Homo sapiens: one gene and its partner. The protein of the gene in region 1 binds, or shares a complex with, the protein of each later gene. Each region holds a gene or a part of one and is shown on either strand. Other genes may lie near its edges. A codon is read from its position in the direction of its gene.

Region 1 (5,276 bases):
ACCAGCAGTTTCTCCAGCTGGTCAGCAGGTATGGGGGGCCTGGGGTGGGCTGGGAGAAGGCCCGGCGCTGGCTCTGTGGCCCACCATCTCCACTGTCCCATTTGCAGCCGCCAGCTCCCACAGTGCGCGCTCCGAGAAAAGGCAGCTCTGGGGGACCTGACACCGCCACCACCGCCGCCGCCACAGCAGCAGCAGCAGCAGCTCACGGCATTCCTGCAGCAGCTCCAGGCGCTCAAACCCCCCAGGTGCGTGGTGCGTGCGAGCCCTCAGGATACAGGGTGGGGGGGGGATGGGGGCAGACCAGAGATGGATTTGGGGTCCTAAGAATCCACAATTTGCTCCTCAGAGGCGGGGACCAGAACCTGCTCCCGACGATGAGCCGGTCCTTGTCGGTGCCAGATTCGGGCCGCCTCTGGGACGTACATACCTCAGCCTCATCACAGTCAGGTGTGTGGCCTGACTGGTCCCCACCCCCAAGGCAGTCTCCGGGTGAAATGGGGTCTGGGGTCTGCTCCCCACCCCCACACGCCCCTAGCTGCCATTCTGGCTGGGGAGCCCACTGCTGCGGCTGGACTAGATCAGTGGGCCCAAGTGCCCACCTGCAGCCGCCTCTGCCCCCCTGCCCCCTGCAGGTGGTGAGGCCAGTCTTTGGGACATACCAATTAACTCTTCGACTCAGGGTCCAATTCTAGAACAACTCCAGCTGCAACATAAAGTGAGTGGGCATCCTGGGGCTGAGGCCCTGGGAATGAAGGGTGGACCGAGGCAGGCCCCAGGCTGTCCCCTGCAGCTCTCCCCTCTGATGGGCCACTGGTCTCAGTTCCAGGAGCGCAGAGAAGTGGAGCTCAGGGCGAAGCGGGAGGAAGAGGAACGCAAGCGTCGAGAGGAGAAGCGCCGCCAGCAGCAGCAGGAGGAGCAGAAGCGGCGGCAGGAGGAGGAAGAGCTGTTTCGGCGCAAGCACGTGGGTGCTCCCAAGCCTCAGCTGGCTGGGTGGACAACCCTCGCCAGGTCCCCTCACCATGTCCCCCTCTTAGGTGCGGCAGCAGGAGCTATTGCTGAAGTTGCTACAGCAGCAGCAGGCGGTCCCTGTGCCCCCCGCACCCAGCTCCCCGCCCCCACTCTGGGCTGGCCTGGCCAAGCAGGGGCTGTCCATGAAGACGCTCCTGGAGTTGCAGCTGGAGGGCGAGCGGCAGCTGCACAAACAGCCCCCACCTCGGGAGCCAGCTCGGGCCCAGGCCCCCAACCACCGAGTGGTGAGCAGGCCGGGAACCTCCCGGGCTCCCCCTACAGTTTCCAGGGTGGCACAGGGAGGGGGATACTGAACCCAGACTTGTGCAGCCCCAGCCCCAGTCCCAGCCTCTCCTGTGATGGCAACAGCTCTTGTGGCCCTCACCTCACCTGTCTCCCTTTGCCACCTAAACAAGCCTCCCCATCCGCTTTTCTGGGGTGCCTTTGTTTGAGCCACTCTGATCTTCTGCCATCTGTAGCAGCTTGGGGGCCTGGGCACTGCCCCCCTGAACCAGTGGGTGTCTGAGGCTGGGCCACTGTGGGGCGGGCCAGACAAGAGTGGGGGCGGCAGCAGCGGCCTGGGGCTCTGGGAGGACACCCCCAAGAGCGGCGGGAGCCTGGTCCGTGGCCTCGGCCTGAAGAACAGCCGGAGCAGCCCATCTCTCAGGTGGGCGTGGCACCTGGAGGCTCCGGGATGGCCCTGAGGGGGAAGGTGGCAGACCCCCCCAACCCCTGCCAGCTGATTTCCAACCCTGACTCACCCTCCCCCTTCAGTGACTCATACAGCCACCTATCGGGTCGGCCCATTCGCAAAAAGACGGAGGAAGAAGAGAAGCTGCTGAAGCTGCTGCAGGGCATTCCCAGGCCCCAGGACGGCTTCACCCAGTGGTGCGAGCAGATGCTGCACACGCTGAGCGCCACGGGCAGCCTGGACGGTGGGCGAGCGGCTCCCAGGAGGTGGGCGGGACCTGGGTCTCCAGACCCGGCCAGGGGGCCCTGACAGCCTTCGCTCATCCTGCAGTGCCCATGGCTGTAGCGATCCTCAAGGAGGTGGAATCCCCCTATGATGTCCACGATTATATCCGTTCCTGCCTGGGGGACACGCTGGAAGCCAAAGAATTTGCCAAACAATTCCTGGAGCGGAGGGCCAAGCAGAAAGCCAGCCAGCAGCGGCAGCAGCAGCAGGTGAGGCAGCCGGCACCAGCAGCTGGGGTGGGCTTGCCTGGTGCCTCCTGACCTTCACCCTCCTCTCCGCTGCCTTAGGAGGCATGGCTGAGCAGCGCCTCGCTGCAGACGGCCTTCCAGGCCAACCACAGCACCAAACTCGGCCCCGGGGAGGGCAGCAAGGCCAAGAGGCGGGCACTGATGCTGCACTCAGACCCCAGCATCCTGGGTGAGCTGGGCTGGGGCAGGAGCGGGACTTCCTTGGCACAGGGCAGGAGGAGCCCAGGAGAGAGCTCAGACGCAGCTTCTCCCCGGCTTCAGGGTACTCCCTGCACGGATCTTCTGGTGAGATCGAGAGCGTGGATGACTACTGACCAGCCCGGACCCCCAGCCCCTGGGCTGTAGGCCAGGGCAGCCACAGCGGCGTGGACCGAGGGTCCCAGCCTGCAGGCTCCCCGCAGAGAGCACAGGAAGAGGCAGGGGCGGGGTCCCCAGCACTTGTTACAAACACACGATGCACCTTAACTCACCCACCACGAGGCACTTTACAGACTGGGGGAGGGGGTTTTTCTTTTTATTTTTTTTTTTAATTTTAAACGACTGAAGAAAACATTAGGAGAGGCAAAAATATTGTTAAAAACTAGACTCTAAACACCCCTTCCTGCTGTGAGGATAGTGGGTGTGACAATGGAAGGTCCACAGAGGTTTTTGTTTTTTGGTTTTTTTTTTTTTTTTAAGAAAAAAAGATGAAAAATGAAAAAAAAAATGGTTAGGAGGCTGAAAGAAAAAACACACTGTTATTTTGGGGCAGTGGGGACACAGGCCCCGTGGACCTGTCCTGCCTGGCCCCCAAGGCCATACTTACCCCCCAGAAGGCGGGCCATGGGGTAACTGGAAGCTGGGGGCCAGCAGTTTGCACAGGAGGCCTGTCTGAGCCCCACCCGCCAGACCTGTTGTGAGCAGCTCCTGTCACTGAGGCTGGCTGAGGTGTCCGGGGTGGGGCCAAAGTAGCCCCTTGGCTTCGCTGCTTTGGGGGACAGTTGCACAAATTGGACGAGTGGCCCCAGCTCTCTGGCTGCCATCTTGTGCTGGCCGAGTAGACGGGAGGGGCCAAGCCGTGCCAACCTCTCTGGCTGGCAGGGTGGGGCAGCAGGACTCTGGTTCTGGTGAGGGGCGTCTCCCACTGCTGCCATTTTGGGGGACACCCTGGGTTTGAACCTGAAAGCCCCAGCTCTCTGCCTTGCCACGTGAATGTATTCTTTGGGCCACAAGCCCCCGCCTCACCCCTGCCTGAGCTGCCTCACCCCTGTGAGCGGCGGGGGTGGATGATTGCTCCAGAGGCTGCAGAGAGAAGGCTGAGCTGTTTCTCCAGTGAAGGGGGCAGGAGGAGGGGCCTCAAAGGCAAGGAGTGGGTGGCTTTGGGCTTAGGGTTGCAGTAGAGGGGCTGCCGCCCGGGGCCCCAACCTGTAGCCAGCTCGTAAGATGTGGACCACCCAGCTCTGCACCTGACCCTTCCGCTGACCAAATGGGAGAGGAGCAGGTGGCCTTCCGGGTCTGATATGATGCGCTTTTTACCGTTGGGTAAGGTTGGGGTGAAGAGAAGTGTGCGGCTCCTGGGTCAGAGGAGGCTGCCCCTTCTATTGCTCACCCACTTCTTATTCCCGGTCCCCTACTTGGGTTCGTCTCCGCCCATTTTGGGTTTTGTAACAGTTTTGTCTTTTGGGTTTCTCATCCAGCTCCTCCCATTGACCTCATTGCTCAGAGTGCAGTATTAGGGCAAGGCTTCGCCACTGCCTCCCTCCATGAATGTATTTCTCCCTCCTGCCCTGGGGACATGGGGAGTGGCCCGTTTCTTTCCCCATCTAGTCCCAGAAAGATGGTGTTTGGTTTTCTGTTGTTGGATTTTTTTTTTTTTTTTTTTTTTTTTGCACCAAAGTGGCAACTAGGTCAGTGTTGGGGGATCAAGCTGGCCTCGGGGTGGGGGGCCCCCACCTGCCTCTCCCTGGTTCCCACAGTGTTAGCGTCCCTGAAAAGACAATATTCTCTCTAAAGCAATAAGGGGTGACGGGCCGGGGGGAGTGTTTGCTGCTGCTGGCCCCCAGCTCCCCTTCCCTCTTGCCAGGTGTGGGGGAGACTCCTGTTGTGACTGAATGTAACCCCCCCACCCCTGCCGCAGCCAATGCAGGGGAAGGGGGACACTCTTCCTGTCTCTTCTCCCCAGCTAAAGAGACTTTGGACTTAGGGGGCCCATGAGCCTGGAGAGGCCTTAACCCTGTGAGGAAGTATAGGGGGAGCCCTCTCCCACCCCCATCCCCTTCTGAGAGTGGTCAATGTTTACAAGCCCCTGAGCCCCCCTGCCCAGGGACTCAGACCCTGTTGCTGTCCTTCCCCGGCCCCGGTCTTCCTGGGCCCTCGCTGCTCCCCTGCCCTTCCTGGGGTTGGGGTGGGTGCAGGGGTCACCGTGTTCCCTGTCTGCCTTGTACCCACAGTCTCCCCGCCCCCTCTCCACCCTGTGTGACTTCCCTCTCTTTTACCTGCTCCTGTAAATACTCCCTTCTCCCAATAAAACTTGGTGTGTGTTCTCCCGTTCCGCCTCCACTGCTCGTTATCTGGGGAGAGCCATGGGGATGAGTGGCTCTGCACAGAGCTGGGAACTAGGAGCTCTGAGCAGTGCCCGCCTGGTCAGGCTGGCTCTGGTCAGCAGCCTGACGGGGGAAACCATGGTGAGGGCTGCTTATCCGAGAACCTCTGGACGGAAGGCTCTGGGCTGGGGCTTCAGCTTTGCTCTGAGGGAGAGTGGGGACCCCACCCCCAGCCCCAGCTGCCTGGCAGGCCCCATACCTTCCCCACCATCCACCCCCTCAGCAGCCCTCAGGCAACAAAGTCCAGAAACAAGGAGAACACAGCAAGGGCAGAGACCAGGTACAGAGTTGGAATTGGCTCCTTTATGGAAAAACTGAAAATATAATAAAAATTAAAATAAAACCAGTTTTAAAAAAGCCAGCCCCTGGGGTTTCCACCTCCTGCCTCCGGCCCTCCAGAGGGGTGAGGCCCCAACCCCAGGGCAGCAGAAGGATGAGGGCCTCCTGCTCCTCCTCTTCCCC
Region 2 (7,032 bases), on another chromosome or scaffold:
TCACACACACACTATCCCCCTTCTTCTAAGAGTCAGCTCTATACACAAGGAAATGGAGTCATTCCTGATAAGTAGTCAGTATCCCAGGACAAAGAAAATAGACTGAAGCTAACAAGTTAAAAAGACATGCAGAAGTGGGGTGAGGGTGGGCAGGGTGAAATTATCTTAAAAAACAGCAAGAAAAAGAAAAGCACTTGTCTTTCATTTTAAGATAGTGGTTAGCATATGAAAGACAAGACAGCCTGTAGAAATTAAGCAAGCCCAGGTAGTACAACTGGGTTTCTGCAGATGGGCTCTCTCTGCTACAAAGCACCTGGTAGTATAGGTGGCAGGGAGCCTCGCTGACAAAGAACTGCAGCAAGTAGCCAGAAGCCCTAGAGGGAAGGCCTGGTCTGTCCCTTCTCCACAAGTAAGTCTCCTGTCCGGCCATATTCCTCTGGGCCCAACTACAGATCTACTTATACTAAGCTTAGGGACACGTCCTCCCATAACCCCCCAACACGTACTTGATGCTGTCGGTGTGAGTTTTGTATTCCATAATGGTGTTGGGAGGTAGGTTAAGCACTCGCCGAAGTGTGTCCCGGATTCGGGCTGTGGTTGCTTGGTCACTGGCAGTCTTATTCCATATTGAAATAATGTCTTCCTACCAGAGGAACAGAAGGAATCATCAAAGCAAATCAGGGGCAGCGAGGAGAGCAAAGGCAACACAAGAAACCAGCCTGGCTCATGGGTGGCTTACCTGAAAGCGGACAGACACCACAGCCCCACAGATCTCCTCCCCAACCATGAACTGTTCCCCCAGCATGGCCAAAATGAGATTCTCCCAGCAACGGGAGGCCAAGCCCTTCCGCAGCCGAATAATCCACTTGCCACCATTTTTATTTGCATCATCCTGTAAAAAGACAGAAAGCACTGAAGTTAAAATATGGTTTCACAGCCTTTTTTTGTATGAAGGCAGTAAAAAGCCAAGAATCTCTTAAACACTAAGAAGTCATATCACTTTCCAATTATTCAACTCTATAGAAAAACTGATGGTAGGACTAGGGAGAGAAGAAATGGGGAAAAAAAGAAAAACAAGGCTGGGATCCTTGGCATAAGCCATTTATTAAAATGGCTAAACAGACCTTTTAAAAATAATCCCCTTTACTGGAAATACTTTAGGAATCAAAACGAAATGATGTCATATTTCAAGCACAGATCATCCGTTTACTTGCTAAAAGTACTGAATGTCTGCTGGGCGCAGTGGCTCACGCCCGTAATCCCAACACTTTGGAAGGCTGAGGTGGGCGAATCACGAGGTGAGGAGATCGAGACCATCCTGGCTGACACGGTGAAACCGCGTCTCTACTAAAAATACAAAAACAAAATTAGCCGGGCATGGTGGTGGGCGCCTGTAGTCCCAGCTACTCGGGAGGCTGAGGCGGGAGAATGGCGTGAACTCGGGAGGCAGAGCTTGCAGGGAGCCGAGATCGTGCCACTGCACTCCCGCCTGGGAAACACAGCAAGACTCCGTCTCAAAAAACAAAACAAAACAAAACAACAACGACGACAAAAAAAAGTACTGACTGTCACTACATACCAAGTACACAGACATGAAGCCCCAATCTAGTTTTTTTTTTTTTCTTTTTTGCGATGGAGTCTCCCGCTGTCACCCAGTCTGGAGTGCAGTGGTGCGATATCGGCTCACTGCCACTTCTGCCTCTTGGGTTCAAGCGATTCTCCTGTCTCTGCCTCCTGGGTAGCTGGGACTACAGGCACATGCCACCACACCCGGCTAATTATTGTATTTTTAGTAGAGACAGGGTTTCACCATATTGGCCAGGCTGGTCTCGAACCCTTGACCTCGTGATCTGTCTGCCTCGGATTCCCAAAGTGCTGGGATTACAGGAGTGAGCCACTGCGCCTGGCTGAAGCCCCAATCTCTACTCAGATCCAGTCCAGTAGAAGAGACAGCCAAGGATATTAATTACAGCAATGATACTATAATTATAAGTGCTGCTGTTAACAGATATGCACACTATGTTAAGGAAGAACAAGATAGTTGGAAACAGTCAAGAAGTGGGTCTTTTTTTTTCTTTTCTTTTTTTGAGATGGAGTCTCGCTCTGTCACCCAGGCTGGAGTGCAGTGGCACAATCTTGGCTCAGTGCAACCTCCACCTCCTGGGTTCAAGTGAGTCTCCTGTCTCAGCCTCCCGAGTAGCTGGGATTACAGGCGCGTGCCACCACACCTGGCTAATTTTTGTATTTTTAGTAGAGACGGGGTTTCACCATGTTGGCCAGGCTGGCCTCAAACTCCTGACCTCAGGTGATCTGTCCACCTCGACCTCCCAAAGTGCTGGGATTACAGGCATGGGCCACCATGCCCTGCCAAGAAGTGGGTCTTAAGGTCAACGGGAGTGAGTCAGGAAAAGCAGCTGAAGGGCACTGCGGGCACTGGGAAGAACATGTCTGTGCATAAACTGACAGGAGGGTCCACCTGCAGGGAAGGGAAGATTTAGAGATGATGGGAGATGAGGCTTGAAAGGTAAATGAGGTGCAAGATCATGTGAGCAATGAGGAGCTGTATAAGATGGGTGGCGTGGATGTGACCACATTTGTCTTCTCGAAAAATGCCATGGCACCAGAATAGAAGATGCACTACACCAGGGCGCAGCCGAATACTGGCTCTGCAAAGTTCTAGGTCTCCAGTTCCTGCCTTTAAACTTATTTTCTTACCCACTTTAATCATATGTGTACTATGTAAAAATATTACACACACGCACAAACAAGTTCTATAAGGATAAAGGTAACTGAAAACAAAAATCCTTTAATGTTCTAATACCATTTTAGTCATAAAACAGTCTTTAAAAAACACCCAGCACCAACCCACACAGACAAAAAATGGCATCAGTGCATTTCTCTAGAGGCTCGGGTTCCAAGGATATACTGGAGAGTGATGCAGTTTTGAGAGACTTTAAAACACTTTTAACCAGCTGGGCACGGTGGCTCACGCCTGTAATCCCAGCATTTTGGGAGTCCAAGGCGGGCGGATCACGAGGTCAGGAGATCGAGACCATCCTGGCTAACACGGTGAAACTCCGTCTCTACTAAAAAACACAAAAAATTAGCCGGGCGCGGTGGTGGGCGCCTGTAGTCCCAGCTACTAGGGAGGCTGAGGCAAGAGAATGGCGTGAACCTGGGAGGCGGAGCTTGCAGTGAGCCGAGATCGCGCCACTGCGCTCAGCCTGGGTGACAGAGCGACACTCCGTCTCAAATAAAATAAAATAAAATAAAATAAAATAAAATACTTTTAACCTTGGCAGGGCTAAGAGACAAAACAAAAAAACCCAAACTTGCTCAAAAAAGCAGTCAGAAGCCATTAGTCCTTACCTCCCACATGGGTTTAATTCCTTCTTTGAAGAGATGGAAGTCACTGTGGCCTGTCAGGTCCCCAGGACGTACCATGTGGCTATAAAACCTCCAGAACTGCTCCACCTGCAGAGAGAAGACCCCAGAGTAAAAAACATGTGTCTTTTACTTTTCTTTGAATGCATCCCAAGGTTGAGATTTAGTTAAGAACATAAGCATGGAAGACACTATACTACAGGCTGTCCTTTTCAGAGGACTCATTTTCATGTGTGGTGTTGTGAGGGAAGACATATTAGAGGAAAAACATACCATCTAGTTTGACAAAATAAAAAATGTAACATTCGCAATTCAAGAATAAAATCTTTGGTGAGAAATGCAAGCCTCAGCCAGGAGCTTTAGTTGGTGAAACCATGTTAATACGCACTCTCCCACTCAAGCTGCAGGGTAGTCATCACATGCAGTAAGAGGACCAGGTTTTTGCACAATGGAAACTCTTTAGCCTTGAGGTATGTAAGTGTCACACAGCCTCAGCCTGAATGCATTTTTTAGAACCAAATCACTTACCGATGAAAGATTGTTTAACTGGCAAATATAGCATTTGCTGAATGAAATACCTCTTAGACCTGTTTAGTTAGTAAGCATAAGTGATAGAATCAACCACATGTAAATACCTCTTAGACCTGTTTAGTTACTAAGCGTAAGTGATAGAATCAACCACATGTACCACACATACCACTCTACATCATGGTGCTGTTGCTAAGTCCAGGCCAATCCAAAATCATACAGGACTTAGCTTCTCATAGCTAGGGTTTAAGGCCCTCTTCTTAGCTAGAAAAATTATGTTTCTCCTTGCCGCTCCTTCACAATCCCGTGAGAAAACTAGATTTATATTTTTCCATCAAGTATATGCTTATTTGTATTCATCACAGTAGTCCTGTTTTTCTCATTAGTGTCACCCCCCCTCCCCTTAAAAAAAAAGAAAAAAAAAAGAGACAGGGTCTACGCAGCAGTATGATCATAGCTCATCACAGCCTCTAACTCCTGGTGTCAAGGGATCCTCCCATCTCAGCCTCCCAAGTAGCTGGGACTACAGGTTCACTAGTGTCTTGATAGGAAAGATTATTTCCTTATTCACAGAGGATACGTAGTAAGTACTGGCCAGTGAAGAGGCACACTTTAGGAGGAAAGAGAAAACACGGAACATTCCAATGAGAAATAGCTGGTATCTGCTAAACTGCTGAGCAGGCTCTAAATCAACATACAGCAAGATACCACAACTGTGGAGCTGACAATGGGTATCGAGTAGACAAAGATTCAGGTCATACTTCTAGATATGGGGAGCACCTAAGGAGAAATCAGCCTTACACTGCGTGAAATGGCTGTCCCTTTAGTTCCTCTCTAGCACAAGCACACGTGATGCATCTTACATGGTAAAAAGAAGTCAGAACTAACGCCATCTATAGGGCTTCAAGGCAGTGCTTTATACTCAGCAACTGCTAAGCTTAGCTGCATGTAGTGACTCGGAATAGTAAATGGTCATATGAATACAATCGGCAATAATGTAAACCTTTATCCACCCTAACATAGTTGAATAAAACCACATATACCCACTAGAACCAAGTACACCCACTAGTGGCTCATTGTGAATAAGGAACTGAAAGGGGCTTGGTGAGGACAAAGTATGTCAACCATCTCCAGTTCCCCAGTCAATAATCGCTTTAACAGTTTGGTCTCCCCAATCTTACAACTACACTGCACAATCTTTTTTTTGTTTGTTTTTTTGAGATGGAGTTTCGCTCTTTTTGTCCAGGCTGGAGTGCAATGGTGCAGCCTGCCTCAGCTCACTGCAACCTCTGCCTTCTGGGTTCAAGTGATTCTCCTGCCTCAGCCTCCCGAGTAGCTGGGACTACAGGCACACACCACCACGCCTGGCTAATTTTTGTATTTTTAGTAGATGGGGTTTCACCATTCACCATGTTAGCCAGGCTGGTCTCGAACTCCTGACCTCAGGTGATCCACCTGCCTTGGCCTTCCAAAGTGTTGTGATTACAGGCGTGAGCCACCGCGCCCAGCCCCACTGCACAATCTTATATGCAAACCATAAGAGAGATGAAGTTAAACAGCTCGAGACTATCATTCATTCATTCATTCATCATTTGAGATGGGGTCTTGCTCTGTTACCCAGGCTGGAGTGCAGCAGTGTGATCATGGCTCACTGCAGCCTCGACTTCCCAGGCTCAAGCAATCCTCCTGCCTCAGCCTCCTGAGTAGCTGGGACCACAAGTGGGCACCACCATGCCCAGCTATTTTTTTACTTTTTTTGTAGAGATGAAGTCTAACACTGTTGCCAGGCTGGTCTTGAAGTCCTGGATTCAAGTGATCCTCCCTCCTTGGCCTCCCTGAGTGCTGGGACTACAGGCATTAGCTACTGTGCCTGGCCTGAGAAATATTATTAAACTTTAAAAGATTTGACAGTTCTAATTGAAACCAAAAAAAAAAATAAGCATTCACAGACTCAGAATATGAGGTGCCGAAAGGACCTCAGAAATCATGTCAGCAACTTGTTTTATAGTTGAGAAAGGTTTCAGGACTGAGTTGCTCTAACCAAGAGGGTCAAGCATCAGAATAGGTGAGCTCTGATTACCAAGTCTAGTGCTCTTTCCATTTCAAGATGATGCCTTCCTAGTCACTCTGACTTCAAGAACTTTTAAATGTTGTTAATGATTAGGCTAAGAATCACTGGGAAACACTGCTTTCAATTTGATAAAAGGATTCATAATGTAATTATTTATCTGTGATGCATTTAATATTGTGAGCCATTTCCTAGTGACCTGAATTACACAACAGACTTTATTTCTATTTTTCAGGTCCAGACCTACAGAGTCAAAATGACAGACTTTAAATACTGTCACACATCCAGTGAGCATGGATGAAGCCTTAACCCAAGATAGTCCTGATGATAAACCACTCCTTAACATATACACTGAAACAAAAGAAAAACCCTCCTCGTACAATTTGGGTAAATTCTTATATGCTTTTTTTTTTCACAAGAGGGAAATAAAAATGCAAGAAGTATGCATAATTACTCCAAAAAAATCTTTTTTTGAGATAAGATCTCACTATGTTGCCCAGGCTGGTTTTGAACTCCTGGCTTCAAGCGATCCTCCCACCTTGGCCTCCCGAAGTGCTGGGATTACAGGCATGAGCTACCAGGCCTGGCCAAATTCTTTAAAATCAATCTTAAACCCATCTCTTCCAAGGCAGTATTCCCCAAACTGGAATCAATTCCTTCTTTCCTCCAAACTCCAAGAGCACTCTAAATGCCTTTCCCATAGTATCACTTACTGTCTTCCCTGTATTAGAAATTCCTGGGCACATCTTATTTCCCCAAGGACAGGATCTGTGCCTTCATTCCTTTTAGAAGCCTACTAGAGCCTTGAATTCATTCAACAAGCATTTATTGAACCAAATATGAACCAGTGCACAAGGTAGTTTATTATTACAAAACCCCTAAGTTTGCTGATTCTAAGATAGCACTGGCAAACTAAACAAGATCTTTGCTTTAGGCTGAAATTTTATCAGCTCAGCATAGTAATGATGTTGATTTCATATTAAGCAGATTATAACTGAGTTGTAAGAGTATTCTAGATACAAGTATTAGATATGATTTGCAATATTTTCTCC

The links. The genes of interacting proteins can lie anywhere in the genome.
Region 2: the proteins of GIGYF1 (region 1) and EIF4E2 are in contact, whole or in part, in a crystal structure (PDB 5NVK), measured with the Homo sapiens proteins. Residues at the interface, in NP_001362694.1 of Homo sapiens: Leu36, Ala37, Asp38, Tyr39, Arg40, Tyr41, Gly42, Arg43, Met46, Leu47, Leu49, Tyr50, Glu53, Asn54, Lys55, Val56, Pro57, Glu59, Leu60, Glu64, Phe65, Ala67, Val68, Leu69, Gln70, Asp71, Glu72, Pro73, Leu74, Gln75; in NP_004837.1 of Homo sapiens: His54, Pro55, Leu56, Gln57, Tyr64, Lys83, Gln84, Ile85, Gly86, Val91 (codon at 3,474), Glu92 (codon at 3,471), Trp95 (codon at 3,462), Arg96 (codon at 3,459), Phe97 (codon at 3,456), Tyr98 (codon at 3,453), Ser99 (codon at 3,450), His100 (codon at 3,447), Met101 (codon at 3,444), Val102 (codon at 3,441), Arg103 (codon at 3,438), Leu107 (codon at 3,426), Phe113 (codon at 3,408), Ile137 (codon at 859), Arg138 (codon at 856), Leu139 (codon at 853), Arg140 (codon at 850), Gly142 (codon at 844), Leu143 (codon at 841), Ser145 (codon at 835), Arg146 (codon at 832).

The regions. Positions count from the first base shown.
Region 1 is NC_000007.14:100,678,989-100,684,264, reverse strand, and holds the end of GIGYF1 (GRB10-interacting GYF protein 1), read left to right. Parts: coding exon 1-28; intron 29-107; coding exon 108-245; intron 246-346; coding exon 347-447; intron 448-632; coding exon 633-715; intron 716-820; coding exon 821-961; intron 962-1,034; coding exon 1,035-1,253; intron 1,254-1,487; coding exon 1,488-1,675; intron 1,676-1,782; coding exon 1,783-1,943; intron 1,944-2,029; coding exon 2,030-2,193; intron 2,194-2,271; coding exon 2,272-2,401; coding exon of another isoform or gene 2,402-2,493; coding exon 2,494-2,546; coding exon of another isoform or gene 2,547-2,577; 3' UTR 2,578-4,758; downstream 4,759-5,276. UniProt on the Homo sapiens protein: May act cooperatively with GRB10 to regulate tyrosine kinase receptor signaling. May increase IGF1 receptor phosphorylation under IGF1 stimulation as well as phosphorylation of IRS1 and SHC1.
Region 2 is NC_000002.12:232,560,689-232,567,720, reverse strand, and holds part of EIF4E2 (eukaryotic translation initiation factor 4E type 2), read right to left. Parts: intron 3,475-7,032; coding exon 3,370-3,474; intron 893-3,369; coding exon 740-892; intron 644-739; coding exon 507-643; intron 1-506. UniProt on the Homo sapiens protein: Recognizes and binds the 7-methylguanosine-containing mRNA cap during an early step in the initiation. Acts as a repressor of translation initiation.